3 separate regions of the Homo sapiens genome follow, and all the other regions are reported to be linked to region 3. The links are microRNA targets in miRTarBase. Many come from high-throughput screens and were not tested one by one. Region 3 holds a microRNA gene; each other region holds the end of a gene's coding sequence.
The links. Region 3 holds the annotated microRNA hsa-miR-30a-5p (UGUAAACAUCCUCGACUGGAAG, at 4,524-4,545, shown strand). A microRNA usually pairs through its seed, bases 2 to 8, with sites in the 3' UTR of a target mRNA and lowers its output. Matches are read on the target gene's strand: a 7mer-m8 pairs with bases 2 to 8, a 7mer-A1 pairs with bases 2 to 7 and ends in A, and an 8mer does both.

Region 1 (10,923 bases), not on the chromosome of region 3:
CATATAAGCCTACCTTAGATTTATTGATATAAATTGTTTTTCTTTTCCGAGTCAACCTTTAAACCTAAAAGTTTAAAGAGTCATGAAAAGGTCTCCTTAGGTTAACTCCACCAACCAGTCAAATATGTAGTCCTCCATTATCCACAAGGGATATATTCCAAGACCTCTACAGAGGATGCCTGAAACCACAGCTAATACTGAACCCCATACAGTATACACTATGTTTTTTCTATACATATATACCTATGATAAAGTTTAACTTATAAATTAGGCACAGTACGATATTAACAATGAAAATAGGACAATTATAACAATGTACTATAATAAAAGTTATATGTGAATGTGGTCTCTCAAAATATCATTGTAGTTACCTATTTTTGGACATAGTTGAACACAGGTAACTGAAACATCAGAAAATGAAACCTCAGATAATAAGGGACTACAATATAAAGCATTCTACATGCATGGTGAAAATAAAAACTAATGATGAAGACAGCTGTTACAGTCTATTTTAGTTACTATATAGTTGACCCATCAGATCAGATGGAGAGATAAGATTATACTCATTACTGAGGAAGGCTTAAACATTCCATTATTAATTTATTAAAAAAATTTAACCTTTGCACAGAAGTGATAAAAATTCCATTTTTAAAAAAGGAACTAAATGAAGTAGCAGACACGTACACAATGGCACATGATAAAAGGAAAATCCCGGCCCAAGCTACTTTAAAATTTTTCTATCTGTAGGAATGAGTGACACTCAAATTATTCTCCATTTGACTTACTAGTGTTAACCCAAGATACAGAATGGACATTGCAAAACCCTTCCAAAAAATCCTTCTCAAAGTGACACCAAAACCTTTCCATTGTTTACATCTGGTTCCTCTCCCCAACCCCACAAATTGTCTTTTTGTTTCAGTGCAGGTCCTACTCTTCCCTCAAAGACTCAGCTTAAAATCCATTTATCGGCAAGGCACGGTGCCTCACGCCTATAATCCCAGCACTTTGGGAAGCCGAGGTGGGTGGATCACTTGAGGTCAGGAGTTCAAGACCATCCTGGCCAACACGGTGAAACCCCGCCTCTGCTAAAAATACAAAAATTAGCTGGGTGTGATGGCGGGCGCCTGTAGTCCCAGCTACTCAGGAGGCTAAGCCAGGAGAATTGCTTGAACCGGGGAGGCGGAAGTTGCAGTGAGCCAAGATGGCGTCATTGCACTCCAGCTTGGGCAACAGAGTGAGGCTCTGTCTCAAAAAAAAAAAAAAATTCAATTTACCTTACTTCTCCAGCTATTAAAGCATTTATTGATTACATGACCCATTTAATTTGAAGCCTAGGCTACTTTATGTTGTTAGTAATCGCATCTGGAGTTGGCACAATCATTTATAAATACCTCCCATATACAAAGCACCAAACTGGGTGCTAGGCTGTATTTTGGGTTCACTCATCTCATTTCCTGTATTTTAGCTGAGAACCAAGTAATAATATTAATAGGTGGGAAAAATATGTGGATTTTATCTGGACAAAGAATGTGACTAATCATTGTCGTTTTTTTCTGAGACAGAGTCTTGCTCCGTTGCCCAAGCTGGAGTGCAGTGGTGCGATCTCGGCTCACTGCAACCTCCACCTCATGGGTTCAAGCGATTCTCCTGCCCCAGCCTCCTGAGTAGCTAGGATTACAGGCACGTACCACTGCACTCAGTTAATTTTTTGTATCTTTAGTAGAGACGGGGTTTCACCATGTTGGCCAGGCTGGTCTGGAGCTCCTGACCTCGTGATCCGCCCACCTCGGCCTCCCAAAGTGCTGGGATTACAGGTGTGAGCTACCATGCCCAGCTGTGACTAATCATTTTCTTTGAAAAATCTTTAACAGCTTCACAAGGGAATTTTGTATTATTCATGTATTAAGTTTAAAGGAACAGCTAACAAGTAATAAGGATTACTTTAAAAATCTTTGGGTGATTAAAGATTACTATTTAAATTTATTGATTCCTTGATATTATGTTTAGTCTCATCAACTCTGCTATGAAGAAAAAGTAAAAGCCAGAAAAATCTGACATTTCATTAAGACCTCTTCTTGCAAATGAAGTGATCATTTAAGTTAGAATGGGAATATTAAAAAGTAGCTTTTCTAGATTCAAATACAAGTGGTAAAAAACTGAAACTGGTGGGCGTGGTGGCTCACACCTGTAATCCCAGCACTTTGGGAGGCCAAGGCAGGCGGATCACTTGAGGTCAGAAGTTTGAGACCAGCCTGGCCAACATGGGAAACCCCATCTCTACTAAAAATACAAAAATTAGCTGGGTGTGGTGGCACGTGCCTGTAATCCCAGCTACTCAGGACACTGAGGCGGGAGAATCATTTGAACCTGGGAGGCGGAGGTTGCAGTGAGCCGAGATCATGCCACTGCGCTCCAGCCTGGGCGACAGAGTAAGACTCCATCTCAAAGAAAAAAAACCTGAAATCAAAACAATAATCCAGTCATTCCTTAGTATCAGCTGGGGTTTGGTTCCAGGACTTCCCCCTGAGGATACCAAAATCTGGTTGATGCTGAAGTTTCTCATATAAAATGGGTAGTGTCTGCATATATGCACATTTTCCTGCATACTTTACATCATATCTAGATTATTTATAATATCTAATACAATGTAAATAGTTGTTATACTCTTTTTTTCTTTATCTTTCATTATTGTATTATTTTTATTGGATTTTCTTTGGAATATTTGAAATCTGTGGTTGGTTGAATCTGTGGTTGTGGAACCCCAGATACTGAGCCCCCAGATACAGGGGGCTGACTGTATTTGCTGACATGTGAAATTTGAATTTCATTCTCCATAGTTTTATTGGAACAAAGTGATATTCATTCATGTACTGTCTGTTGTTGCTTTCATACTACAACATCAGAGTAGCTGCAACAGAAATTACATGTCCAGAAAGCCTAAAATATTTACTATCTGGCTTATCAAATTCAAATCAGATAATTTTATTATTCCCTACAGTTTGAACACATGGAAAAAGCATTAAATATCTAAATATGTAAATTAAGATAATGAGGCACCTTTTTGTCAATAATTAGAAGACTGAGGAACTATGAGGTGTAGTAAGACTGGCATTTTCATATATTGCTGGTTGGAATATGAACTGGTTCATCTGTTCTGCTAAATAGGAGTACACATCAGGAATCTCAGAAATCACTTTCACTGCTGTAGGATTCAACAGTAAGAACATATCACAATTTATTAAACCTTTTCCCTACTGATATAGCTATATATATATGTGCTGTTTTCAGATTTCTATTAGCAACAATGGTGTATTTCACATTGTAATGAATGCTGTATTTAACATTTTTAATGTATTTATCATCAGCAATTAACGCTAAATCTATAGGAGTCCAATTTTATGAGGCACAGAATATTGTATATAGTCTGAGAGTTCCTAGTCTAGAGAAACCCCTAAGTCTAAATGTGGACTTACTGGGTCCACCCTAAGTAAACAAAACTAGTATCACCAATAAGCGGCAAATGCCATGTACCTCCAGATGTGATACGCTAGTCAAAGACCACCTACGTCTAGAGGTGGACTTACTAGGTATCAGGTTGTACACAGCTTCAACTTTACTAGATATTGCCAAAATGTTCTCTAAAATAAGAGCTGGCCTGGGCATGGTGGCTCACGTCTGTAATCCCAGGATTTTGGTAGGCCAAGGCAAGAGGATCATTTGAGCCCAGGAGTTCGAGACCCAGCCTAAGCAACATAGTGACACCCCATATATACAAAAAATGAATTTTAAAACAACCAGTCGGGTGTGTTGGCACACACCTGTACTCTCAGCTACTCAGGAGACTAAGGTGGGAGGACTGCTTGAGCCTAGATCAAAGAAGTAGTGAGCCATGATCATGCTGTACTCCAGCCTGGGCAACAGAACTGTATGAAAAATTAATTAATTAAATAAAAGCAATTTATTCTTCACCACCAACACTTTTCAGGAGTATTAATTATTGCTAATCTGATGGAAATGAATGCCGTCTCCCTAATTACAAGTTAGGTTCATTGTCTTTTATTTACTGACCCTTCCTCCTGTTTCCCCTTTTATAAAAGGACCGACCATGTCCTTTGCCCATTTTTCTATTATAACATTTGTCAGCTGGATGCAGTGGCTCATGTCTGTAATCCCAACACTTTGGGAGGCCGAGGTGGGCAGATCACGAGGTCAGGAGTTCAAGACCAGCCTGGTGAAACCCCGTCTCTACTAAAAACACAAAAAAATTAGCCAGGCGTGGTGGTACGCACCTGTAATCCCAGCTACTCGGGAGGCCGAGGCAGGAGAACTGCTTGAACCCGGCAGGCCGAGGTTGTGGTGAGCCGAGATCGCACCATTGTACTCCAGCCTGGGCAACAAGAGCAAAACTCCGTCTCAAAAAAAAATTTGTTTTTGATTCTGTTTTGTTTCATTTAGTAACTTGAAGGTGTATTCCCATTCTTCTAAGAACAAACTCCTCCATAAAACCCACCTTTCCTGCAAGGCTGCTTCCATGTTCTTGCCTTAACTAGATCCAGCATTCCCTTGATACTACTGCTCTCACAGTCCTCTCAATGCAAACTGAGATACAGAAATTTTTTATCAATAACACTATCACAATTATCCCAAAACTGTAATGATGTCCTTCCCTTCTAACAAATCCATAAAATAATTCCAAATTCTATAGATTGGTTTACAAAGCCTTCTGTAATCTGACCTTAACAGTTTGAGCCACCTACTCTCCTATATATATTCTATGCACCAAGTAAACTCAACTGTTTGCCACCATCTCAAACACCCCCTGGGCTTTCTATAAATACTTCTCTGTCTTGATCCATGCTCTTCTTAGCACCCACCCGTTTATCAGACATTCATCCTTCAAGGAAAACTCTTCCTTACAATATAATACCAACAAATATAGAAAAGAATTAGAAAAAAAAATCACCATTTTGCAGCCATAAGAATAAAATGGATTCAGGCAAGAATCATCAATTGATGGTAAATACAAAATGTCATATTTTATGAGGAACGAGATATTTTATATAATGTCAAAGTATCTCTCCCTCAAATTATTTATGAATTATAAGGATAACCAGGTTGATATAATTTAAAAAGCACCCTAATAAGTAATTAACATTAATAACACCAGCAAGGGGAAAATGCCATGTACCTCCAGACGTGATACCATGACACTATTACTTATGCAGTATTCCAGTTAAAAATGCATAACCATGAAGAAACATTGGAGAAACCCAAATTGAGAACATTCTATAAAATAACTAGCTTATATTATTTTAAAATGTTAATGTTGTGAAAGACAAGGACTGAGGACTTTTTCCAGATTAAGAGACTAAATACAATACGTGATCCTAGACTAAATCTTGAACTACAGAAAAATGCCATAAAGGACATTACTGAAACAACAGATATAATTTGAGTGTGAGGTGTAGATTCAGAATATATGCTTAATATTTACTAAACTAGAAGAGCTCTCATTCCAAGAATCCACACACTCCCACCACATCTGAGGATATGCCCTTATACAATACACCTGAGAAGAGAAACTGACAGAACTAAATGATTAATATGTGCTAATAACAGTGTCTAGAGCACTAAAGATAAAAATGAACAAATTAGGCCAGGCGCGGTGACTCACGCCTGTAATCCCAGCACTCTGGGAGGCAGAGGCGGGCGCATCATGAGGTCAGGAGATCAAGACCATCCTGGCTAACACGGTGAAACCCCGTCTCTACTAAAAAATACAAAAAATTAGCCAGGCATAGTGGTGGATGCCTGTAGTCCCAGCTACTCGGGAGGCTGAGGCAGGAGAATGGCGTGAACCTGGGAGGCGGAGCTTGCAGTGAGCCAAGATCATGCCACCGTACTCCAGCCTGGGCGACAAAGTGAGACTCCGTCTCAAAAAAAAAAAAAAAAAAATTAACAAATTAAAACACTGGAAAGGTTTAGAGAAACCATCATCACTCACCTTACTTTAGGGACAAATACATGAATTTGGGTCCTTGTGATTTTTGATAAAGATTTCAAGTTTCTATTATTGAACATAAAACTAGATTCCAAAGGAAATAACTAGAAGAGTTACCGATAAAAAATTTAGATTCTTAATTTTTACACAAAATATCTAAAAACACACATTATACTGTCTTTTGAATTTTAATGACACTAATAGCTTTATTTAACAAACACTGAGTGACTACTATGTGCAAAGCACTATGCTAGGTGCATGAAAGATACAAAGATGAAAAAAGACACAGTCCCTGCCCACAAGGAGCGTATAATCTAGTGAGGGAGACAAATACACAAATAACTAGAATACAAGGCAGTAAACAAGAGTGGGCAAGTGCTGAGTGTGGCCTGAGTGTGATACTAACTAGCCTCAAGGTTCCAATTTGAAACACGATGAAATAGTGTTGTCTGCTTCGAAAATCCCATCCCAAGTTTGGCATAATGGAAGTTAAATGGCCCTACCCAAACAGGTGGAAATAACAGAGTAGGCCAGGTGGAGGCGCTGTTTGAAAGTACTATCACACCTACATACATGGTGCTGATATAAGTACGTAGGTACAGCTAAAAAAGAACTTATATATATATATATATCATATATATATATATCATCTGTCCTTTGGTTAATGGCTATAGCTACTGTTTTAAACAATATACTTTTATATAAAAAGGAATTTGTATAATCCCAGAAAAATCAATTTAAGGATTAATATTAATTCAAGAAAGAATCCTGCCATAGGCAATTTTATTTACTAATTGATTAAGTCTTTTCTCTAAATATCTATAAAGCTCTGTAGCAATTAAACAGTTAGACATCTAAGTATTGCTGAGTAGAAACCTCTTATGTTCAGCCTTCTGAAATAAATGGTCACATACCTGATATATAGCACTATTCTAACAGCAACAAGAAGGCCTTAAAGAGATTTTAAGAAAAATAATTTTTAATGCTTCAATGCAAATGGAGTACACGCTGATTAAATACAACTCAATGTTCTTTGAAAACATCTCAATGACAGCGTTTGATACCAGTTAAGGCCAGCAAAATTGTACTGAGGAAAATATTATTACATGTACTGTCTTTCATTGGTTTCATGTATCATTGCTTATGACTATGGCAACCAAATCTTTTCTTTGACAACTGCATTTATGGGAACTGATGAGCTTTGATTTATGAGCTTTGATTTGCTTTTAGTTCATAGGCCAATAACAAGTGCTGACCACCTCCTCTTGGTAGTGCTGTCTGAAATAACTGGCAAAGTAGAAGCACATTTCCTGGCTCCTTTTCCCACTTCCTGAATTGGAGGGTTCACCACCTTAGCCTGTTTCCTTTCGTGTGTCACTGTGGTCCTGGGTCCTCTGCTGCTTTCTCTCAAGGAAACGAGCCCGTGCATCAGATATGGATTTGTCATCATTTCTTCTTTGCATTTTCTTTAAGACGTCTTTCGATATTCCATCTGAAAACATTACAAATTAATCCAATAAAACTTAGCTTTGAGATTCAGTACTAGAAATGTTAAGAGAAAGAGAAGCCCTGATTTTTCAGTGTTAACAAAGTAAAAACAATAAAGAGAAAAATTAAATTTTGCCCTTTCAAAAGCAATGTAGTCTATGGTTACAAAATTAAGAGCACCAAGGCCAATGAGTCAGAAAAACTGACCCTAATTCAAGCATGTGGCAGTGTTATTACACTGTAATAGAACACCTAGTGGCTAAGATTTCTTTTCTTTTTTTTTTTTTTTTTGAGACGGAGTCTCACTCTGTCGCCCAGGCTGGAGTGCAGTGGCGCAATCTCGGCTCACTGCAAGCTCTGCCTCCTGGGTTCACGCCATTCTCCTGCCTCAGCCTCCCGAGTAGCTGGGACTACAGGCGCCCGCCACCACACCCAGCTAGTTTTTTGTATATTTAGTAGAGACGGGGTTTCACCGTGTTAGCCAGGATGGTCTCGATCTCCTGACCTCGTGATCCGCCCGCCTTGGTCTCCCAAAGTGCTGGGATTACAGGCGTGAGCCACCATGCCTGGCCTCCCTAGTGGCTAACATTTCTAAAGATTTTTCTATGATTTATTCGGCAAAACTCTTCACCATTCCATTTTGCAGTGATGTCAAATAAAGAAAATACAATATGCTTCATCATTCAGCCTCAAAAAGCTTTACTAAGAAGTTTTCTGTGTATGTGAGCTGAAAAACTTTCTGTCCTATTTCAGTACCACAACTATTTATGCCTCCCAACCAGGGTCCTAATTATTTCATAGAAAAAGCCCCTTGGATATACAAACTTAGCCAGGCGTGGTGGTGCATGCCTGTAATCCAGCTACTCAGGAGGCTGAGGCAGGAGAATAGCTTGAACCGGGAGGCAGAGGCTGCAGTGAGCCAAAATCACACCATTACACTCCAGCCTGGGCAATAAGAGCAAAACTCCGTCTCAAAGAAGAAAGAAAAAGAAAGAAAGAAAGAAAAAGCCCCTTGGAAACAAAGGGGATTCTGAGTTAATAATGCATAAATCATCACTTTTTTTTTTTTAGAGATAGTGTCTCACTCTGTCACCCCCAGGCTGGAGTGCACTGGTGAAATCACAGTTCACTGCAGCCTCAAACTCCTGGGTTCAAGCGATCCTCCTGCATCAGCCTCCCAAGTCACTGGGACTACAGGTGCACACCAACATGCCTGGCTAATTTTTATTTTTATTTTGCTAGAGATGGGATCTCACCACATTGCCCAGGTGGGTCACAACATTTTTATAAACAAAAATAGTGAAGTACTACTGGGAAGCAGTATGGCATAGTGGTTAAGAGTAGAACAAATGATTTACTCACCCTTTAGCTGCTTTACATTTTCCTTATTTGTCCATCTCCTTCTTGCATCTTCTCTCACTTCACGTCGGGCCACACTGCTCAAATCATGTGCATTAAATTCATGCAACTTGGGTAACAAGTCTCTTACCCATTCATAACGGATTGGGCATACAATTCTTGCGTAGACTTTGGTGGTAACCAATACCTCATGAAAAATGATCCATTCAAGTTTGGTTTCCTGTTCATGAAGCTATACAAAACATTTCTTTTAATGATGGTAACTCAATAACCTGCCCTATTCCACATTAAACCAACCAAATAGTCCAAATCCTTCTCAATTAATTCCTATCTTCTTCAAACAGGAGGCACAGGCCAACCAATACCCTTATAGATCTATGTAATATAGATATATGTAAATTTAACTCCAAAGTGAAAAGTAGAAGACATTTGTATATTACTTATTTCTACAACTTTACAAATTTCTTCCCTTTATTAAAAATGAAGTACTTACTGCTGAGGAAGGATGAATGTGAACTGGGCTTCCACGACCATCCATTGTGCAAAACGTTCTCCCAACAGATCTATAAACAGAAAAACAAAATGATAAAGACTACAACAGTAAAGCAATGAAGTAAATGGAGCATTACATTCAGCAATGAACAATTACAATATGTTCTACTACAAACAGCATTATAAGCAGAGGTTTACATTTATTCAACTGTCACTACAAGCTCTCTACCAATTCATCTTAAATTAATTATACAGGTTAAACAGTCACTACAATTAGGTATAAGTCACTACAATTAGGTATAAGGAATCAGTACAAATATTAACAATAATCTATGAGCTTTGAGAGCCAGGAACTTTATTAAAAAGTCAAAACTAAAATTCAAATAAATTAGCTAGACTTCTCAAGATCACCAGCGCTAACGCATGGTAAAACCAAGTCCTAAACAGTTCTTCTGACTTAAATATGGTTTCTTTATGTTATACTATGCTGCATCTCTTTTTAAAGGGATGATTTTTTCACTACTCTAAAACTTGACAATTAATCTATCATTTTTCCGATTCATGCCCTTATTTTCTTCTACATTACCCTACCTAAATGTCATTCCAAAAAACTTGTCAAAAAAATAAACCTAGTTCATTTGTCATAATTTATTTCCTATAGTACTTTGTATATATTCATAGTATAACCCAGATCAGACTGCACTGTAATTATTCACTTACATATCTGTACCCTCCATTAGACTCAGGTATCATCAAGAATGATGTAAGGACTCATGTTACTCTACTTTTCTATTTTTAGTACCTGCCCAGTGTTTGGCATACAGAGGGTAACCAAGATATACCATATTTTTAAAAGTGTGAAACAATCTAAATTTACAGAAAAGTTGAGAGTAAAAAAATTTTTACCTGAATCATTTGACAGCAAACTGCCAACCTAATACCCCATCATCCTCAAATACTCGACTGTGCACTTCTTACAATCAACAATCAAGAACATTCTCCGACATGACTATAACCATCAAAACCAGGAAATTAACACTGATACATTACTAACAATTAATCCTCAGACCCCACTGACATTTCACCAATTTGTCTTAATAATATCCTTTATAGCAAAAGGATGTAATTCAGAATCATACATTGCCTTTATTTTTCATTTCCCTTTGGTCTCCTTCATTCTGGAATACTTCCTCAGTCTTTGACTTTCATGATCTTGGCACCTTTAAAGATGTCAAGGCTAGTTACTGTGTGGTATGTCCCTCAGTTTGAGTTTGTCTGTTTCAGGATGATTAGATTCAGGTTATGCATCTTTAGCAGGAATATCACAGACATAATGCTGTGTTTTTCTCATTGTATCCTATCAGGAAGAACATGATTTTTATTTATTTCATTATGTTCACTTTGATTGCTTGATTTAGGTCACATATGCCAGGATTCTCCACTGTAAAGTTACTTTTTGCTTTTGTAATTAACAAAAATTTTATGGAGAGGTGCTTGTAAACAATTCCATTTCTCAATAAACTTTTACTCATTTATTTATACCACGATAGACACGATTTCACATTTTATTAAGTGCATAATAA
Region 2 (10,923 bases), not on the chromosome of region 3:
ATACAAAAATTAGCCGGGCGTGGTGGTGGGCGACCTAATTCCAGCTGCTCCGGAGGCTAAGGCAGAACTGCTTGAACCCAGGATGAGGAGGCTGCAGTGAGCCGAGATTGTGCAACTGGACTCCAGCCTGGGCGACAGAGTGAGACCCCGTCTCAAGAAACAAACAAAAACCAAAAAACCAAAAATGTGCCCTGAAGTCTTCCACATTGTATTATTTAAGCCTCACGTGAGTTAGCAAGGTCAGTTTACACGAGATAAACTTAGTAAGGTTAAGTGCCCAGATCCAGGCCATACAAGCGGTCGTTCTATATTCTAAATTCTATGCTTCTTAAAGTTAAGAATGGGTAGTAGTTAAGAAGCTACTACTAACAGTATGAGATAAAATGATATTTTAAAGATGAACAGATGTCGCATTCTAAAAAGGTGAAAACGCGGCAAGGCACAGGAACTCTTCATAATACTGCAGTTTTTAAGAAACATGGGCTGGTCTTGACGAGACCTATAGGCAGACAGGGCTCAAACATTCAAAAGAGCTGCAGAGTAAACTCAACTCCGGGAAAGCGCTGCACTGACTGGCAGATTCCACACGAGACACTGGCCTCCCACGTGTCTTTCAGGAAACATACAAAATTCAAGGGATAAAGGAAGCCAAGAAGGGGTTGCGAAAAAGGGAAAAAAAAAAAAAACAAAAGCGAACAGAGCTTCCCTGGGACGTTCAGGGAGCGCGGAGGGTGCGGGAAGGCTGGGGCGGGCGGAGGGAATTCGCAGAGCATCTGGCGGGCACCGAGGTCTGGGAACAGGCCTGGAGGCAGCTCGGTTCGTGGAGAGAGCGGGCTGCCCGTGGGCCCCACCCTGTAGGGCCCCCCAGTAGATCTGCTCCCTTGGTTCGGGTGGGCAGGGGAGGGCAGAGCGCAAAAGAGAAAAGCAGGGAAGGAGACGCTAGAAGAGCCACGGGTAGGCGCGAGTCAGAGTCCGAGGTTCGAGGGCTCTGGGCCGGCCGCATCTGCGAGCCCTCCGAGGCGCCGTAGCCCCGCCCCTCCGGCGCGTGGCGCCCATGACGCTAGGCGCGCGGGCCGCTCTCCTTACAGAGGTCGCTCTTGTCCGAACGGTCGGCCTCTGCTGCGCCTGCGTGGTCGGGAGGGGAAGTGAGGCGGTTTCCTCGGCGCCTTTTCCGGCAGCGGCGGCGGCAGAACTGGGAGGAGGAGTTGGAGGCCGGAGGGAGCCCGCGCTCGGGGCGGCGGCTGGAGGTAACCCCTTGGGCCGAGCTGGAAAGGCGGGCCACCTCGGTCTTCGCTCCTTTGTGGAGCTCTGGCAGTAACTCCCCTCCCTCTCTGTTTCTCTGCAGGCAGCGCACCGAGTTCCCGCGAGGATCCATGACCTGACGGGGCCCCGGAGCCGCGCTGCCTCTCGGGTGTCCTGGGTCGGTGGGGAGCCCAGTGCTCGCAGGCCGGCGGGCGGGCCGGAGGGCTGCAGTCTCCCTCGCGGTGAGAGGAAGGCGGAGGAGCGGGAACCGCGGCGGCGCTCGCGCGGCGCCTGCGGGGGGAAGGGCAGTTCCGGGCCGGGCCGCGCCTCAGCAGGGCGGCGGCTCCCAGCGCAGTCTCAGGGCCCGGGTGGCGGCGGCGACTGGAGAAATCAAGTTGTGCGGTCGGTGATGCCCGAGTGAGCGGGGGGCCTGGGCCTCTGCCCTTAGGAGGCAACTCCCACGCAGGCCGCAAAGGCGCTCTCGCGGCCGAGAGGCTTCGTTTCGGTTTCGCGGCGGCGGCGGCGTTGTTGGCTGAGGGGACCCGGGACACCTGAATGCCCCCGGCCCCGGCTCCTCCGACGCGATGGGGAAGGTGCTATCCAAAATCTTCGGGAACAAGGAAATGCGGATCCTCATGTTGGGCCTGGACGCGGCCGGCAAGACAACAATCCTGTACAAGTTGAAGCTGGGCCAGTCGGTGACCACCATTCCCACTGTGGGTTTCAACGTGGAGACGGTGACTTACAAAAATGTCAAGTTCAACGTATGGGATGTGGGCGGCCAGGACAAGATCCGGCCGCTCTGGCGGCATTACTACACTGGGACCCAAGGTCTCATCTTCGTAGTGGACTGCGCCGACCGCGACCGCATCGATGAGGCTCGCCAGGAGCTGCACCGCATTATCAATGACCGGGAGATGAGGGACGCCATAATCCTCATCTTCGCCAACAAGCAGGACCTGCCCGATGCCATGAAACCCCACGAGATCCAGGAGAAACTGGGCCTGACCCGGATTCGGGACAGGAACTGGTATGTGCAGCCCTCCTGTGCCACCTCAGGGGACGGACTCTATGAGGGGCTCACATGGTTAACCTCTAACTACAAATCTTAATGAGCATTCTCCACCCATCCCCTGGAAGGAGAGAAATCAAAAACCCATTCATAGGATTATCGCCACCATCACCTCTTTCAATTGCCACTTTCTCTTCTTTTGAATTTGAACTCTGGAGTTACTGTTCTACAGTTTGGCGGGGACGGGGCTTGGGGGTTTTCTCTTTTGTTTGTTTCCCTTTCTTTTTCCTTTTTTTTTTTTTTTTTTTTTTGTTGGCTTTGCGTTAGGATGCTCTGATCTGACATTTGACATGAACACAAAGTTGCTAGATGCTCTTGTTGACTTCCAGCAGATGGGATGGGGGAAACACAGCAGTTCTTGGTAAAGTCCTTTGTAATAATAGTTTGATTTTTTTATTTCGAGAGAATCTTTCATTTTCCTATGTATGCTTTTTTCCTTTTTTGCCCAGTTTCCTTATCACTTGCTGTAGATGGCTTATTTTGCATTCATGCAGACTATGTTGCAAGTCTGTTTCATCTAGTAAACTGAAAATTATTGCTTAATCAAACTGCCGTTTGTCTTTTATATTTAAGGCCTTCCCCCCCCTTCCTTATGAGTTCTAACTTAGTAATTTCAAATGTGACCTTTTATATCTAAGACCAGTATAGTAAACTTAGCCCACAGTGGCAAATAATGAGTAATATTGTAATATGTTCCAGTTGCACCTCAGTATGTTAAACAGGTAATGTAAGAAGTTCTCTGAAATGTCAGCAAGTAAGTTCTGAAACACATCATGCATGAGTAGGAATAAAACCCAAGTTCCCCATAACGTAGATAACTTAATGCTGCATAAAAATATGAAAGTGTAACCCATGAAGGACACTTTTTCTTTCCACTGCAAAGTTAGCCACTTTGCTGTTTTTCCTCTTTTTTAAACTTTGAAAATAGACTCTTTCCAGAAATTGGAGCAATAATGGTGTTACCACACACAGATTAAATAATTTGTAGATATTTTAAGTGACTTTTGGGCAAAACTGGAATGTATACTTTTACCTTGTTTCAAACACCTAAGACCAGTAATTTAAAAATTACTAAAAGGTTTACTTTGTTCATTAATAAAACATTTAACAATTCAAATTATATGCACCTTTTACCTAGTTGAAAAAAATACACATTCCTGTTTTCACATTATAGCAACTGATTAAGCTGAAGCTGTAAGTCATTTTTTATAGATGAGTGATCCGCATCTCCATCAATTAGAACACTGGAAAAGATGTTTTATAAAAGAGGTATTTAATTTTGTTTGTAGGATTAACTCATGCAAATAATAAAAAAGATATCCTGTTGGTTCAATAGTACACTGTCTCCTTTAAGGAAGGAAGCGTGATGAATGAATGATGTGTAGACTTGAGGGATGACTATTAAAGGGGACGTAGGATGAAGAGAAAGAACCTACAGATGACAATGAATGTAAACTTATTTTTCTTCATGTGTAAGCAGTGTGCTCGCTGGTGATATCCAGATCCTAACAAGATTACTTGGTTAGCTGGTTAGGACCAGTAACTGGATTGCGACCACTATGATAATATTTTGAACCAAATGTTAATGCTTGATGCAGAATTGTAAAGCAGCATCTGGTTCCTATATAGCCTTAAGGATTAATTTTAGTGATCCTCAAGGAATTAAATAGGGAATTTCAGAAATGTAGACTGCAAAGGCAGTATACAGGAAAAGGTGGAGTGGGTTTTGTTTATGAGGGTGTCTGAAAACTAAAATTGAGCGGGATATCATGGTATAGTTGGACAGTATTGGTCCTTCACACTTTGGCCATATTGTATAATGGAGCTTTTACCAAAGATGTATGAGAAGTGTAAGACTATAAAAAAATGAACTATTCAAAGTAAAACTCTTAACAAACATTTTACTTAAAGCAGATGCAAAAGGGTATTCTCATGTAGGCTCCTGTTGGTGCAGAGGGATTTTTTTGATTTCAGGATACAACTAAAGTACGAAGTTCTCAGTTTCACTTTAGTAGAAAGAGCTCTAGAAATGAGGCTGATAAACACATCTAAGAACACTGGTTGCTTTCTAAAATTTCCAAAGCTCCACCATAAATGTAATTTTTAGTGTTTCAAATGATTGCATTTTAAAGTATATAAATATGGGTTATCCAATATCAATGCTATAGTAACATCCTGAAACAAAACAAGCACAAAGGTATAAATGCCTAAACTGGAGGAAACTTGAAACCCTCATGTTAAATCTTAAATGTAGTATTTCTAACTTGTGAAGACAGATTGGTAGGCAGCCATTTTTTTGTGTCTTAAAATAACTGGGGGCATAGTTAAAATTTTATACATCAAGTGATTGCTATTATTGAATGTTGCAGGTGAGATGTGGTTATTTTTAGTTTATTTGAAATGTTTGACTGGAAAGGGGGGAGGGGGAAGCAAATATTTGAAATTTGGAAAACCCTAAACCTTTTGGTAAGAAATTGTAATTTTCACTTAAAATTTTCTTTAAGGATATAAGAGGTTTATAATTGATGTAGTTAAATTGAACAATAACCATTGGTGACTGGAGCAGGTAATTATAGCCTGCAGAAAAAATTATCTAAGAATTTTAAAAATAAGATCCTGAAGTTGTTTAATTGCATCCATTTCTGTATTTATGTGAATTTATAAACTGCAGTAAGTTTTGAATGAGGTTAATCTTGTTTAATATAAGTAAATGAGTCTGTAGACTGTGATCTCCCCAAACTAAAAAGTACAGTACTTGGAATTGTGTTCTTTATGGTTGTAGTGTTGGTAAAGCACTAATATGCAGAAAATAAAGGAATTACACAGTGCAGTTTCTCACGTTATGTTACTCGCTTGAACTAGATAAGTGGGACGTGTGGTGTGTCGGGCCATGTTATTCTCCAGGGTATATGGTAAAAAGTGACTTAATTTGGAAGTTGCCTGACTTTTGTAAGAAAAAAAAATCAATTTGGTTCTTGTAAATGCTGGCTGTTTGAGGTAATGCGCCCTGTTTTAGTTCCACCAACTTAATCTGATTGTATGATAATTTAGAATACCACAGTTAAACAATTTTTAAAATTTGAGGTCCCATAGCAGTCTTTATTCTGCTGTTTTTTCCAAATTACAACCTTAGCATTTTTAGAAGTAGAGAATTGTGTCTAAAGAATTGGCCTTAAGTCTTAAATTCAGGCCTTAATTCTTTATAGACTTTTGGATTTCAAAGTTTCTTTTAGAGGTCAAATTGTTTGTCCTATCGAAATGGCAAAACTGTATTCATTTAGAAAGTAAAATAGTATCATAGAGGATAAGGTTGGAAGAAAGAAAAGTAAAAGATGAATAACTTGTTGGATAAAAGGGTTTGAAAGACATTCTTGTAAGCCTTTCCTCCTATATCAGCAATTTTTATAGTGTGATTTTAGAATGTCTTCATGTGATCTCTAGTATGATTTAACCCCATGTTAATATTTATTAATATATTTAGTACTGTGGTTAAGATACTGTGACAAAGTATCAATTTTTCAGTGCTAGCAGTAGAAAATATTTTCCCCATGAATGGGTTTTTATGTTTTAATATAAGCTTAGAAGTAGCCATAATCTGAATGGTGATGGAGCTTACAAAATTCCAAAAGTTATTTTCTCAATACCTTGCCCAATATGTATCAGGATTACAAGTAAGGTAAGTTGTATCTTTCCTTATAGGTAAAAACTGTATTTGTAAAACCACATACAGCAATTATAAGAAATTTTTAAGTGATTAGTCACTGAACATAATATATTTGGAGTATAATATTCAATATTATCTAGCCTTTTGCTTTAATTAAATGGTAAGGATTAGTAAAGGTTACAGTATTAGAGAGTTTACAAAAATGGAATGTTGGGAGATGGAGCCATAGAAGAGGCAAAGCAACTTGTTGCTTTGCCAAACAAAAGTTGCCAGACTAGACTAGTGAGCTGAACAGGCAAGGAACACAGAGGTGAGATCAAGGAAGGCAGAACAAGAATGGAGCGGGATTTAGGAATTAAAGCAAATCTGCAATTAAATATAACTGAAGTAATGGTAAATTTCAAGAGAACTAGACTGTAAGAACTAACCTCACATTGTGGGAAAATAAAAATTTTAACCTTTTCCCCCTTTATTTGAAATGTTCTATGACTACTTGAAAGAATTTAAAAATGAAAGTATTTGTCAGTTTTGTCCTTGAATATCTTTCATTTGTTATAGAATACATATTTTGTCCATAGTATTTTGTTTTATAAGTGTGAGGGTAGATTTTTTTATTGAGAGCCTACTAATATGCCTGGCACTGTTGAGGTGCAGGAGATCGACAGTGAAAAAAAAAACAAAAAATCTGTATTCATGGAACTTACCTGGAGGGTTGGGGGCAGAGAACAAAGATCAGATGATAAGTAAAAGTCTGTTAGGTTATATGCTATATATTGTACAATATGTTATGTATGTACACATATTAGGGAATAGGTAGGTGTGTTCGGAGAAGACCTCATTGAGGTGATGTTTGAGCAGATACTTGAGGAAATGTTAATATTGGTATAATTGACATAGTCACAGAAAGATAATAGTACAGTGTAAAGCAGAGGTGGGAAAACTGGCCAAGGGCAAATCTGGCTGCAGCCTGTTTTTTATAGGGACTGTGCTAGAATGGGTGTTACATTTTTAAAGGATTTGTAAAGTTTTTAAGAAAAAACCACGAATATGTGACAGACAATATATGGCCTGAAAAGCCTAAAATGTTTACTATCTGGCTCTTAGGAAAAACATTTAACCTCGAGTGTAAAGCCAATTTTTAAAACATTATCAAAATTTATAGGAAATGGAACAATTGAAAGTGAAAGGCCATTGTTAAATGAATCTAATCAAAATTTTAGGACACAGAGGCTGGGCGCGGTGGCTCACGCCTGTAATCCCAGCACTTTTGGAGGCCAAGGCGGGCGGATCACGAGGTCAGGACATTGAGACCATCCTGGCTAACACTGAAACCCCATCTCTACTAAAAATACAAAAAATTAGCCGGGCGAGGTGGTGTGTGCCTGTAGTCCCAGCTACTCGGGAGGCTGAGGCAGAATGGTGTGAACCTGGGAGGTGGAGCTTGCAGTGAGCCGAGAGCGGGCCACTGCCACTCCAGCCTGGGTGACAGAGCGAGACTCCGTCCCAAAAAAAAAAAAAAAAAAAAAATTAGCGCACAGTGACATAGAATTTCCACATTTTATACATTTAGTGAGCTAAGACTTGTTATTGAGTAGTCTAACCTGGATTTTGTTTTTCTAAATGAGTTTAAATGCGTGAAATCAGTAGTTTCTCAGTTTTGATTTTAACACAGTTGTTTAAAACTGTGTGAGTCACTTCATTTTAAATATTTCTTTTATTTTTGTGGTAGTTTTACTGGTCTTTGGATTTAAGTTAAATGTGATTCTCTGTTACGTGTCCTTTCTTCCAGATAACCTAGATTAGTTTGGTGTAGGTTCAGATAACATCGTTTAACTGTGGCTTTTTTATCCACTCTTTCTGTAATTAAGTCATAAGTCTATTATTTTTATGGAGAAAGTTTGTAAGGGGAAGTGTTTTATTGACGTGGAAACTTATGGTGCATGATATTTGGTTTCCAGTATTATTCCTCTAACCAATATAAACTAGAAAAATTTGCTTCACACATGGATTATTTCTTGCCTAGAGGGTTATATATTAATACTAAATCATACTAAATAATTTCTACAAGTAGGATGAGAAATCTATATTTTAAACTATTTAAACTATTACAAAGTTGTGAAACCTATAACTATTTTAGACTACTACAAAGTAATCTAGCGGAAGTTATGGAAGTAAATTTTATTGAGGACATTTAGAAATGAGCTTTAAAGAAATGAAAACATTTGTAGTTCATAGAAAGACCTATGTGAAACTAGTTATTTATGATTATAAAAGTTGTTTTCCATTACAACTGAATAGCCTGAGAAGGTTATAGCATATGAGAGGGAAAAAAAAACATTGTTGTGGTAGAGCAGAAATTTGGATCTTTGAAGTTGGTTATAATAAGGCAAACCAAAGTGCTTTCTCTGCATGTCTTTATTTTTTATTTTATTTATTTATTTATTTATTTTTGAGGTGGAGTCTCGCTCTTGTAGCCCAGGCTGGAGTGCAGTGGCTCCATCTCAGCTCAGTTCAAGTGATTGTCCCGCTTCAGCCTCCCGTGTAGCTGGGATTACAGGCATGCGCCACCACGCCCAGCTAATTTTGTATTTTTAGTAGCGATGGGGTTTCACCGTGTTGGCTGTTCTCGAACTCCTGAGCTCAGGCAATCCACCCGCCTCGGCCTCCCAAAGTGCTGGGGTTATAGGTGTGAGCCACCGTGCCTGCCCATGTGTTTATTTATTTATTTATTTGAGAAGGAGTCTCGCTCAGTCACCCAGGCTGGAGTGCAGTGGCGCGATCTCGGCTCACTGCAACCTCCGCCTCCCAGGTTCAAGAGATTCTCCTGCCTCAGCCTCCCAAGCAGCTGGGACCACAGGTGCACCACAACACCTGGTTAGTTTTTTTTTTTTGGTTTTGTTTTTTTTTTTTTGTATTTTTAATGGAGATGGAATTTCACCATGTTGGCCAGGCTAGCCTCGAACTCCTGACCTCAGGTGATCCACCCACTTTGGCCTCCCAAAGTCCTGGGATTACAGGTGTGAGCCACCGCGCCCGGCCCACGTGTTTATTTTTAAAAGTTAGTTTTATGAATAAGTCCTAGGTTGGAGTTAGGCCTAAGGAAATCAAACTCAGAAATATTCTAAGAATAGTAAGAGTTAGCATTTACTGAATGTTTGCCATGTGTCAGGCATTGTTCTAAGCATTGAATGGGTATTAATTCTCTAAATCCTCACAGCCACCTTGGGAGATAGGGCTCTCATTTTATAGTTGAAAAAACTGAGGCATACAGAGGTATATGTTAATAAGTAGCAGAGCCTGAATTTGGATTCAGGTAGTCTCTGCTGTACTATGAATGTGACTAAGGTGAACCAGTGCTTACTCATGTTCTTAGTATCTTTTTGGTGTATGTTTTCTTATAAATACCTGGCTTTAAGTAAATTTCCTATAATTTTCTTATTTTATCATCAATAAGATTTATTTATTTATTGAGACGGAGTCTTGCTTTGTCGCCCAGGCTGGAGTGCAGTGGCGCGATCTCGGCTAACTGCAAGCTCCGCCTCCCGGGTTCAGGCCATTCTCCTGCCTCAGCCTCCCGAGTAGCTGGGACTATAGGCGCCCGCCACCGCGCCCGGCTAATTTTTTTGTATTTTCAGTAGAGACGGGGTTTCACCGTGTTAGCCAGTATGGTCTCGATCTCCTGAACTCATGATCCGCCCGCCTCGGCCTCCCAAAGTGCTGGGATTACAGGCGTGAGCCACCGCGCCCGGCCATCAATAAGTTTTGAGTCCCTGTATAATTTCACTCTTGTGTACAGTGGAAAACACAGTATTAGGCACTTAGGGAACTTTTTTTTTCTGTAAAAATCAAATTTGACTGCTTGATAGTGAATTTGACAGATCATTGTGAAAAATAGGAAAAATTAAAATTTTCACTCAGCTGATTATTTGTATACTTATATATAGATTTCTTTTAAGAAAAGTTTTATATGGAATGCTTCATGAATTTGTGTCATCCTTGCACAGGGGCCATGTAATCTCTGTATTGTTCCAATTTTAGTATATGTGCTGCTGAAGTGAGCATCCCAGTTAAATTTCAATTAGATAAACTATTTTTTTAGTACAACTGCATCCCAAGCAATATACTAAAATTATATATTAAATTATATATACTATATATATAAATTATATACTAAAACTTAAATTGAAATTTAACTGGCCATCCTATATTTTACCTACAATCCTATATCTGACTTTGAGTGGTACGAAAGGAGGTAAGATTCAAAACGTCTAAGTTTAAAAAGATATTTAGGAACCCTCAAGAACTCTACCAAGTAGTTTGGATATTGTTTTGTGTGTAATGGGAGCCACTGAATTTTTACATACGTAAATATATATATATACACACATATCTTTCTGTGCATATAGATAGATAGATAGCAGGAGAGAGTCACAGTGTTTAGGAGTATTTAGTAGCTTTGTATAGAATCATGTATCAAGATTATGGATAGAGGTTGGAAGAAAGAAGTCCTTTCAGGAGACTTTGTTGATAATTCAGTTGAGAAAATGAGGGCCAAGTACAGTGTAGAGAAATGAGAAAGAAGTGAGAAAATGAAATAAATTGGTGAAATATGTTACTTGTGGAGGAAGAAAGCGTTAACAATTGTGATCTGAATTCTTTTTTTTTTTGAGACAGAGTCTCGCTCTGTCACCCAGGCTGGAGTGCAATGGCATGATCTCAGCTCACTGCAACCTCTGCCTCCTAGGTTCAAGTGATTCTCCTGCCTCAACCTCCCATGTAGCTGGGACTACGGGCGCCCACCACCATGCCCCGCTAATTTTTGTGTTTTTAGTAGAGATGGGGTTTCACCATGTTGACCAGGCTGGCCTTGAACTCCTGACCTCAGATGACGCGGTCGCCTCAGCCTCCCAAAGTGCCGAGATTACAGGTGTGAGCCACTGTGCCC
Region 3 (10,923 bases):
TTTCTTTAAGGTCACCAAAATCACTTAACTTGCTTAAAATATTGATGGAAATATCAACTACGTACAGTTGACCTAAATTAGAAATGGGTGTTTTTTAAATAGTGAAATTTATAAATATAATATGTATATTTTAAAATACAGTTTATATTATAGAGTTATGTTCCTCTGTAATAATTTCTCTTTACACTGAATCATGTTCAGTTTTTATTATGCAGATAATTTAATCTTACAGCTTTGATCTTTTTTAAAAAATAAAACAGCCATTTGGAGTCTAAATTCAGCCATGTGATTATTACAATGAAATTCATCTTAAATCTACCTAATGTCCCTTTAGATATAAGACCTATTTCAATAGAAGGGCGTTTCTTGGTTAGGGTTGCTCTTCCCGAGAGGAGTCTCCTGGAGCAGGAGCCCCTGGGGAGGAGTGAACTGAGCCAGCAGGTGGTCTAAGGGAGGTGCCAGGGAACTGCTGACAGTGACTTGCCTGAAGGAAGGGAGGGAGCAGGATGGGAGTGGGGTGGAAAGTCCCTTATTAGCCTGGAGGCTGGGATGCCCTGACCCTCTGGAATCCCCCTCCCTTGTAAGAATGCCAGCCAAAGTAGGAAGGAGGAGCTCCAGCCAGATGGGGGTCCCAGTGCAGGAGGAAGATAGTAGGGTGACCACAACCAAAAAAGCTGTCTGACAGGCTTTGAGATCTCTTGTCTGAGGAACTCCGGCATAGATAGTAAGTCAGTATTCACTTAGAGGAGAGTTTGGCAAGTGAATATATATGATGAATGAATGAGTAACTGAATGAACTGCTTTATCACCAAAGGATCTGGATATTTGTTTCTACTCTCAAACATTTTTTGATTTGTTAACTTTTTATGCCCAATTTTAAAAGAAAATGCAATTTTCATTGAACTATGATTGACTACTTCATATTTATTGAAACCCACACCCTCCAGTACTCCACAAATGATTCAGAAAAGCTTACAATAAAAAAAATCAGAATAGAAAAGTGAGTAACGGATGTGATTTCAATTCTCCAAGCCTGTTGTCCTTATCTGTGATGGTAATGATTATAGATGCCTTATCTTGCTGTGGCAGGGATGAAATGAGATCATGTGCAGGCATTATTTGTCATACAACAAATACATAGTTGAGGTTGTATTAAAATTAAGGCTTTAAACTTGAGTACATACACTTTTGCTTAATTCTCAATTTATTTTTCATTACCATTTTATCAGAGAATGATATTTAAGCGATACTCATTTCTAGAGTAGAAGAGATTTTATTCCTTATAACTGTAAACTCTATACTATCCAAGATAATACTCTTCTTCCTAGAATTTGAATTCGTTAACAATCTTTCACATTTTCACAATCCATGGGAAATCACTCCCAGTAAATGCTTACAGCATTCGTCCACTTTCATGAGGCAAGGAGTAGGTAGGTCTGTATTTGTATTAATTACAAAGAAATTCAAGGGAAGGTTCATCATTATCATCGTTAGCAGGAAATATAATGAATTAGAAGCCCTTGAATTGGACTAAAAGAGTGTGGAGTATGTGTAAAAGAATGAATCAGAGAAGGTAAAGATTAATTTTAAAGGGCAGAATTTTGTTTGTACATTTAGGTCACTTCAATTTCAGATCAGTTCTATGTATGCTTTCTAGAAAAGATATCAAAGACCACCTAGATTTCTTGCCTTTAGGTGTGTTTTACCAAAGGAACAAGACAGAAGATGAATGCCAAAACTATTAATGCAGCTACCCTGGACACTAAGCCCCCAAAGAGATGGAGGATTGGAGGATGTAGAGCCTGGGCACTGGGTCCAGTGCTGACATGGAACATGTTCATTCTTAGAGTTTCACTGCAAACACTCCAAGGATAGAGAGCGAGAAGGTTATGTGGACATGAGAGGAGAAGGGTGGAAGAGGATTGAATGGTTCAGGGTAGCTAAAAAAAATTTTTACACTTTATCTCGGGCTGCTTCTAAACCCTCCACCAGAAAGAATTAATCCTGCAAGCACTTAAAACAAAACTGATGTGAGGAAGATAATAAAACCTGTCCAGGGTACAGACATCCAGATTTGCAATTTAGGGTGGGAAGACTTTAGAGACCTTGTCTAACAGGGCTAAAGAGTATCCTTATGGTTTTAAAGTAGGTACATTGTTTTTTGTAAGCATTTCTAGGGTTATATAAGACAAATCAGAGTCTGATGTATTGAACACAATTGGATCTTATTCTGCCATATTTGTTTTTAATTCACGATTTTTAAATGGATTTACTGGTCATATTTCTCAGGTCATGGCAAGATTTTTTAGTCTTAAACTTATTTAGCTCAGTCCTTCTAGATCAATGGTTCTCTGCCCTGAAGGTGTAGCAAAATTGTTTGATAGCTTTTGCAAAATTTACATACCCAGCAGCCTCCCCATCAGCTGAATAAGAATTGCAATGTGGATGTGGCAGAGGCAATCAGGTATGTGGGGTTAGAAGAAGCTGTCCTGGTCATTCTGTTGCCACCCTCTCACTTGGAGAATTGCTGATCCAATGAATTCCTTAACATAACTTTGAAAACACAGCGTTTTGCTCAGAACTTCATGAATAAACATCAAATTTTCACTAAACAAAATAATTAAAGACCATAAGATCTTAGTTATAATACTTCATAAATGGAAAAGCACTTTATTGCCTGTATGTATGTGGGCTCCTCTTTTAGCAAGATATGAGCTAGGTGAAGTCTATGTGAAAGCTAAAGCAGATTTATTCCAGTCAGATGCCAGACAATTTTACCAGTTTAACTGAGACTCATTATTACTTAAACTACATGCTTGTTTTTTTGGTTACTGAGTAGTATAGGTCCCACTTGGATCAGCAATTCTCAAAGTGAGAGGGTGGCAATAGAATTATTTAAGTAATTATTTGTTATTTGAGGTTGTTTGCTTAGTATTTACTTGTCACTGTTTTACATGTTATTTAATAATTTACAGTTATTTAAAAGTGGTAAGATTCCAAGGCAAGTAGGGGACCTGTCACTTTGAGAAAAATTTATGGTGGTAAAAATATTTTCTTTTTGTAAAGAGTCACTGATATACAATGTCCCCCCAGGGTGTAAGCCTTGGTATTTATCTATTTTAATTAAAGAGTACTCTGCCTGTCTAGTCGTGGCTAACTTAAAAGAAGTGGGTATCTTGGTGAGAAGTTCACAAGGTTGGTAGCCATAGCTGAGTTTGGTGGATTGACTCAAGCTCTAGTCAGCAGTGGTATATGAATGCCAAGTACTAAGAATTTCTGGAATGTAGAATTGCACAGCACTGATAAAGTTTGCTTTGTTCCCCTGTGTGACTTGACCCATTGAGAAAACTGGTTCCCTAGGAAGTTTTAATAGTTCAAAGTCCTTAGTTAATAAAGAAAAAGGCCACAACATAATTCAGCTTGTTTTCACCTGCTGACTCAAAGATTAACTTTTTTAACCTTAATGGGATAGAGTTACCCTTTGCTTTGAGAAAGTAATTTATGGAGTTCTTCATATTTGTTAGTTTCAGTAAACATGATGCTTTTTGTGTGGATTTTATTTTTGTTTCGGGTTTGAGATCACAAACTACTAAGACTTACACAATTTAAGAACCTTACGGTAACTTCATCTAAAAACAAATCTCAGGGAAAGGCACACCCACTTTTCTGTATCAACTTAATCTTTCACTAGATTCAGAATGGTTTTGAATTACTTCAGGAAAGTAGTGACTGATAGAGCTTAACCTTCAGTTTTCCTCATTTATTTTCATAAGAGAATGGGAGTGGAATTCAAAACATTCAAATTTGGAGTTAATGTGCGTCACTGTTGTGAGTGATAGGTTCTGTGTTTTTCCAGTGGGAAACTTTGATCCACATACTGATATATGCCTGTGTTATACCTCGTTATTCTTTTCTGTTTTTCTCCTGATTGTTGCTTACTCTTTCAAAAATCAGCTGACTGTACAAGTCCTCTCTGGGAGCAGACTTTAGAGCAAAAGTGATCTATAAAAGCAGCATGTAAGTCTTTTTTTTTTTTGTCAGAGTTTATAACTTTCCAAGTAGACCTTTTATATTTTCACGGTAGTCTAAGTTCACTCAACTGCAGTATTTGATGTTAAATGTACGCTTTACGCTGTTAAGATAATTTAGTTTCTGTGTTTGGTCACTTTTGCTTAAAGGATTGTAATTACATAATGCATGTTGAAATCATATTAAGTAACCTGGCCACTTGCCTATTTACTTCTTGTGGCTAACAATAATGAATGAAACCATTTATATATGTTGTTTTAGTATATCACAAAATTTTATAGAAACTAGAAGCTCGGTGATGAATAATAGACATCCATGAGCCTTCTTATTTGTTTTGAATTTGAGACATTTTCTAGAATATTGCTGTTTGAATGAGGCTTCAGTACTTTACAGAATCGTTGCCTGCACATCTTGGAAACACTTGCTGGGATTACTTCTTCAGGTTAACCCAACAGAAGGCTAAAGAAGGTATATTGCTGTTGACAGTGAGCGACTGTAAACATCCTCGACTGGAAGCTGTGAAGCCACAGATGGGCTTTCAGTCGGATGTTTGCAGCTGCCTACTGCCTCGGACTTCAAGGGGCTACTTTAGGAGCAATTATCTTGTTTACTAAAACTGAATACCTTGCTATCTCTTTGATACATTTTTACAAAGCTGAATTAAAATGGTATAAATTAAATCACTTTAAAACCATGTCTGTACATTTTTAGAGGGCTTCAGCAGGGCATTGAGGAGGTGCTCTGTGTATGCATAGAATTTGCAATATCAAAAAGAAAGTATTCGTAAGAGAAATGAGGAAATGTGTTACAGTATTTTTATTTTTTTTAAAAGCGTAGTAGGGCAATATTTCCCAGAAAAATCTATGAAGTGATTTGTTTTGTCCTGCCCTTTCTGCAGTTTCAAAATAGGTGTTTTTTAGACCCATTCACAAAAAAAAAATCCATTAATGAAACCACAATTATTTGGGGGAAAAAAGTAAGATGAAGGGTTAGTTATTTTCACATTACTTGGATTAAACCCCTTTTATTTCCTTATAGGCTTAGTGTTTAAGTAATAAAGTAGCAGCTCTCAGCTTAATAAAGTGTCTAAAACAAACAAATACTGATTCAACTAACTCTATTATTTGAAAAACCTATTCTTGTTTCAGATGATTAGAATAGTATTTTAGGAATTTGTGGATACTGTTTCCATTTGGTTGAACTTTTAACTTAGCTTTATGCAATAACTCATATCTCTTAAAAATAATAAATACATCAAATTCTATCCTAAATATATGAAGACAATTTTAAGATTCAGAATCCTGTAGAAGATTTCTGTGATGGACATAATTTCTAATTTTCCTTTTTTGTAAATGCGTATTTTTCTTATGGCGGATATTTTTAATATTATACACTTAAATAGAAATATTTAAGTGTATAAGAGAAATATTTAAGTGTATAATAGAAATATTAAGGATACACTTATATAGAAACTAGACACTTTAAAAAGATATGAAAGTGATATCTTTTGTCCTCTAAAACACAGTATTTTATAAATATATAGTGTTTCCATTAATGTAAAAGAGTTTCTTTTCCCTGTTTAATACCCATTGATGATGATGATAAAGAAGTGATACTAAAACAGTATGATCATACCACTATTTAAAATAGTAGCATTTCTTCTAATACCTGGGATGGAGAGAAATATGTGTTAGAAATGTCTTTAAGTTTCCCTCATACATAAAGCTATCAAAACTCTATTAGTCATGCTGGGCCATGAGAGGTTCATCAACTGCCACTGAAATGCAAGGGGCTTGGAGAGGCCTCTGCCAGGCCCTGGGTCTGGAACTGAGAATGTGGTCTATTTTAATTGGTAAGCTGAAAACCCCTGGAGCAAATAACTCGGCTGTTTTTCTGGGGTCACCCGACCGTATTTCCTAGGTAAATGACTATAGGTTTGAAGAAATGGTTAAACTTTTCCTAAATCTTTGACCTTCACTTTCTTTAGGTTCTCTTCCTATGTTATTTTATATCCTCTTCCTTACCTTACTGCCCCTAAATTTTCCATTTTTCATTTTTATCTGTTCATTTTGTTCATGTAAATAATTAGTTATGGGAACTTTTTAATTTGTAAAAATTACAGCATTTTTAATTATTTTTAAATCAACAAATACAAACCTCCATAAGCCATTCCGGGTAGTTTCAAAATTAATACCTAGTATTTCTTATGTCTTGTGCCCCACATTTCCACAGTAATAATGTAAACTACTATTTTAAAGTAACATCAACAGTCCAGGCACGGTGGCTTACGCCTGTAATCCCAGCACTTTAGGAGGCTGAGGCAGGTGGATCACTTGAGGTCAGGAGTTTGAGATCAATCTGAACAACATGGTGAAACCCTGTCTCCATTAAAAATACAAAAATTAGCTGGGTGTGGTGGCACGTGCCTGTAATCCCAGCTACTGAGGTGGCTGAGAATTGCTTGAACCTGAGAGGGAGAGGTTGTGGTGAGCCAAAATGGTGCCACTGAACTCCAGCCTGGGCGACAGAGCGAGCCTACCATCTCAAAAAAAATATATCTATATATATATATAGATATACATATAAATAAATAAAATAACATCAACAGTGTGTTATTCATAATTGAAATAAGATCTGGATGCAATTTTTTATTTTACAAAAAAAATAACTTCTAAAGTTTACAGTATTATGTTTCTACCACTACGTGGACAGAGTTACCATGCATGTGCTTAGGTAAGATAAACTAATATTTAACATAAATTAGAAACCCTTACTAATTGCTTTCATGTGTTTTTTTTCTTACTATAATTTTTAAAATTTCACATATCAGCATAATAAAATATCTATAAACTAAAACATAAAATTCTTAAAATGGACTGTAGTAAGTCAGTTACTGAAAATAAAACACTGTCAAAATGTGTTAGTTAAATGTAATGTGAGTGTTGCTATAAAGTTAGTAATGTTTAAAAAATAGCACCACACTGAGTAATCATCAAAAGTATTATACATTTAGTTTTTATTCATGATTTGCCAAAATAAAAATTGGCACATGCTTGAAAGGGAGATTTCTAAAGGAAGTTAAGAGCTTCTGAAAGTGTCAGTGGTGAATGATTTAAGTGATACTTATTTTTCCTGACCTTAAAACTCTGATTTGAACTTGCACTCCATTTTACAATGATGTTGTCTATAAATATTACACATGTATGAAGCCTTTCCTCTACTACAGAATAACTAAAACCAGACCAGAGGACTGTGGAGGCAAGGGAAATGCATTTGAAGGCCGTCTGCATGGGAATTAGTTACCTAGACCTGAGAAACCCCTTTCTATTTAGATTCCTCTCAGAATTGCTCTGTTTTCTTTTACTAGAATTTTAGCTAAACATTACCATTCAAGGGGAAAACAATCTTTCCTGAGTGGTATCAATTTTTGGTAGCTTAATAACACTAATTCAAAATTGCCCGTTATTTTTCTGTATCAGAAGAGTAACAGGAAGTTAATTGTTTATCTTAATTTTGGAAGCACCTTACTGAAATTTTAAAGGTGGTGCTTAGTGAACTGTCTTAACAATCTCACTAAAATAATACAGAAGACTTTCTTCATGTGGTTCTATATCATAAGAAGTATTCTGTATAGATATGGAAGATAAATTTCCTAGTGCGTACTGTAGTTGTTTTTGTGCACTGCCAAACAAATACATAATGAAGCTGTTAAATCATTTGAGATTGAGGGTTTTTATGATTATTATTTTTCCTCCTCATTTTTACACCTCCTAATGGCCAGTAAGTAAAATGCAAAAAAGTATCCTCTGATTATGTTTATTATTAGAAATAATAGTCAGTGAATTAAATATTCTTTAATAGACTTCTGTTGTAATGTGCGGAGAAGTGTCTCGCTAATGTACACTTCTAAAATCTCAATATGAATGTGATGGGCAAGTTAATGTTGCCAAGCAAGTGATGCTAAATCTGCCTTTCCTAATTTGTATACCTCATTATTATATAACCTTAATAATGCAGTACTTTCAGGGTAGAGGCTTTTTGATGCAAATTAAAACAAAGTAGGTTGGGGATTCATTTAGCACAAACACTAAATGTGAACTTACTGTCCCCACAGACTTCAGTGCCCTGAATGGTTAGAGAAATTAATGAAGGAGCTCCATCGGGTGCCTTTACAACTCTTAGTAATATGAGAATCTTTCCACAGCTCTCATTTCAAAAATGATAACATGAGATTTCAGGATGTGAAGTAACATATTAGCAAGTGTGTTAGAAAATATAAAATATTTTACAGTATGATAACATATCATCAGCTTGTTATTCTTAATGTGTTTCCTTGTAGGGCCTGACTACCATTTCTGAATTTTGGAATTTGGTATTTTTTAGTAAACGTTTGAAAAGATGAAATGCTTATACCAATAGCCTGTCAGTGAAGGAAAATTTATGTAAAAGCTAAAGAAATGCAGTTAAATATAAAATAAATATCTTAATGCCGTAAAACAGTAGCATTTGCAGTCATAATTCCCACAGTCAGTAACAATATATTTATTTTCAAGATGTGTGATGTTAATGCAATAAAAACATTGTTGCCCTATTTGAATGAAGATTTATTTGCACTGAGTATAACCCTGCAGAAATGAGTCAGAGAATTGGTAAAATTTGCAAATCCAAACATTCAACTTTGAGTGTTCATGTTTTGTGCATAATAGATCTAAGCGCATATCAAAGAAGTGATTTTGCTAAATTTATTACTCTTTAATCATGTTAGATTAAAATTATCTTTAGAATTACAATCTTTAAACTATGTAATGCCCACCTAGAAAATTTAATTTTCAAACGTTTGTTCTTTTTTATATGCTTTCAATGGTTTTCTTGGCCATATCAGCTATATAGTTGTCTTTCTGCAATTCTCATTCTACTCTTATACCCCAGTGAATCTATGTTTGGCTTAAAATAAATTTAGATGGTCAGATACTGAGTAAGAAATTAGGAAATCCACACACTGTTAATTCATAAAAACAATAATGTTCATTGAAATAATTAACCTTTCTGCACTTTAGTTTCTAGTTTGATTTTATTGATTTCTTATAATTTGACCTAAAATCTCTGTGTAATAAAAAATAAATCATCATGAGTTATTAGAAATTCTAAAATTTTAAGACTAATTAAAAAGTAAAATTCAGTTTATGAAAATGCAATTTACTGAGAGGTAATTTCTCTGTTCTTTTTGTATAGAATAGAATCTATTCAGGTTGTTGGTACACATGTAATTCTTATTGACTATGTGTGATATGCTAATAGCTAATTAAAACTACTTTCATTCAGTTTACCACCTGAGACAACAGAAAGACTAGTGCTGGAGAAGTTAGGGTTAAGTTTAGAGTTAGAAAACAAGCTCTCAAGGACTTGTAAGAGCAGTCCCATCCCCTGAATCTCAGGATATGGCAGCTCACTTTGACTGAAGGAAATTTTAAAGTCCTAGGGTGACTAACACTTTTCTAGCACTGTTGATTTTCTAGATTAGACAAGAATAAGAGAATACCAATGAAGGCAGGATGATTTTTTTTCTTTATTCTATTTTATTTATTTATTTATTTATTTATTTTTTTGAGACAGAGTCTCACTCTGTTGCCCAGGCTGGAGTATAGTGACACGATCCCGGCTCACTGCAAGCTCTGCCTCCCAGGTTCAAGCAATTCTCCTGCCTCAGCCTCCTGAGTAGCTGGGACTACAGGCGTGCGGCACCACACCTGGCTAATTTTTGTATTTTTAGTAGAGACGAGGTTTCACTATTTTGGCCAGGCTGGTCTCGAACTCCTGACTTCGTGATCCGCCCACCTTGGCCTCCCAAAGTGCTGGTATTACAGGTATGAGCCACTGCACCCGGCCGATTTTTCTTTCTTTCTTATGAAGAATGAGTAATCTGTAACTCAGTTTTATATATTACTTTAGGGCTAATGTGTGTAAGTCCTATACTGCCCCTCTTGTAGAGCTTATTCTAAAGGGGTCTTTGTAATCTGATGTATGCCCCACCTACTGCTGTCCCCCAACACTGACCACTGACTTCCAATTGTTCAGACAACCTTGTTCTTTTCCTTCGTATCTCAAAATCTTTGCCTCATCTCTTCCCTCTGCATAGATTGAGTGCTCTTATTTTATTCACCTCTACCCCCAAACACATATACCCATACATACGCATACACATACATGCACATTAATACTTTAGGTCTCAATCCAATTTTCATTTCCTCAGGGGAATAATTCCCTCATTCCCTTGTCTTCATCCTATGGGCTCCTTCTTTGTCCTGAGACAGAAGTCATGAGGAGGAGCCAACCATGTGCAATTTTGGGGAAAAAACATTCAGGCAGAGGCAACAGCAAGTGCAGATGACCAGAGGTATCAGATCAAGTAAAAGTTATGAAGTATTCTGGTACAAAATCAGCAAAACAGAGTCAGAGGTAAGCAAAGGCCAGGTATTGTAAAGCCTTGTAGGTCATAGTGACGTTTGAAATTTACTAGTAGGCATTAGACTAGTATTTGTTATTATGAAATGTTCTTTAAATTTTGAATTTAGTTTAGTTAAATAATAGTACCTCTATCATTGTGACTGACCCTACCAGAATGTTAGTAACATTTAAAAAATAAAAAGGTCTCCAGCCTGGGCAACAGAGTGAGACCCTCTCTCAAAATAAATAAATAAACAAATAAAAGGGTGAACAACAGCTTACTTCAATAAATATTGAATGCCTGTTTGTATAAAGAATGGTGTTAGATGCTGAAAGATGCAAAGTTGAAAAAACCTTGATCCCTGTGGTTACACGTAAGAGTGCAAATATGATGGTATGTGGACCAGAGCCCCAACACTACCTGAAATCAGCTACCCCTCTCTGAAAAAG

Region 1: the mRNA of DHX40 is a reported target of hsa-miR-30a-5p. Seed matches in the 3' UTR shown: 7mer-m8 at 6,359-6,365.
Region 2: the mRNA of ARF6 is a reported target of hsa-miR-30a-5p. The part of its 3' UTR that is shown has no 7-base or 8-base seed match.

The regions. Positions count from the first base shown.
Region 1 is chr17:59,603,603-59,614,525 of GRCh38, reverse strand. DHX40 (DEAH-box helicase 40) reads right to left here. Exons shown (of 18, transcript NM_024612.5): 16 at 9,342-9,411; 17 at 8,852-9,080; 18 at 6,181-7,493. The coding sequence ends at 7,354. Among named protein-coding and RNA genes, the nearest start is that of CLTC, 11 kb to the left of the region's middle.
Region 2 is chr14:49,891,911-49,902,833 of GRCh38, forward strand. It overlaps ARF6 (ARF GTPase 6), which reads left to right and starts at 1,172. Exons shown (of 2, transcript NM_001663.4): 1 at 1,172-1,247; 2 at 1,346-5,144. The coding sequence starts at 1,827. The coding sequence ends at 2,354. It also overlaps the pseudogene RNU6-189P. RefSeq lists enhancers at 732-831, 1,702-2,021, 2,052-2,101, 4,244-4,393 and silencers at 922-1,311, 1,352-1,541.
Region 3 is chr6:71,397,217-71,408,139 of GRCh38, reverse strand. It overlaps MIR30A (microRNA 30a), which reads left to right and starts at 4,519; the gene lies at 4,519-4,589. It overlaps LINC00472 (long intergenic non-protein coding RNA 472), which reads left to right. Exons shown (of 3, transcript NR_121614.1): 3 at 1-276. RefSeq lists an enhancer at 5,523-6,051.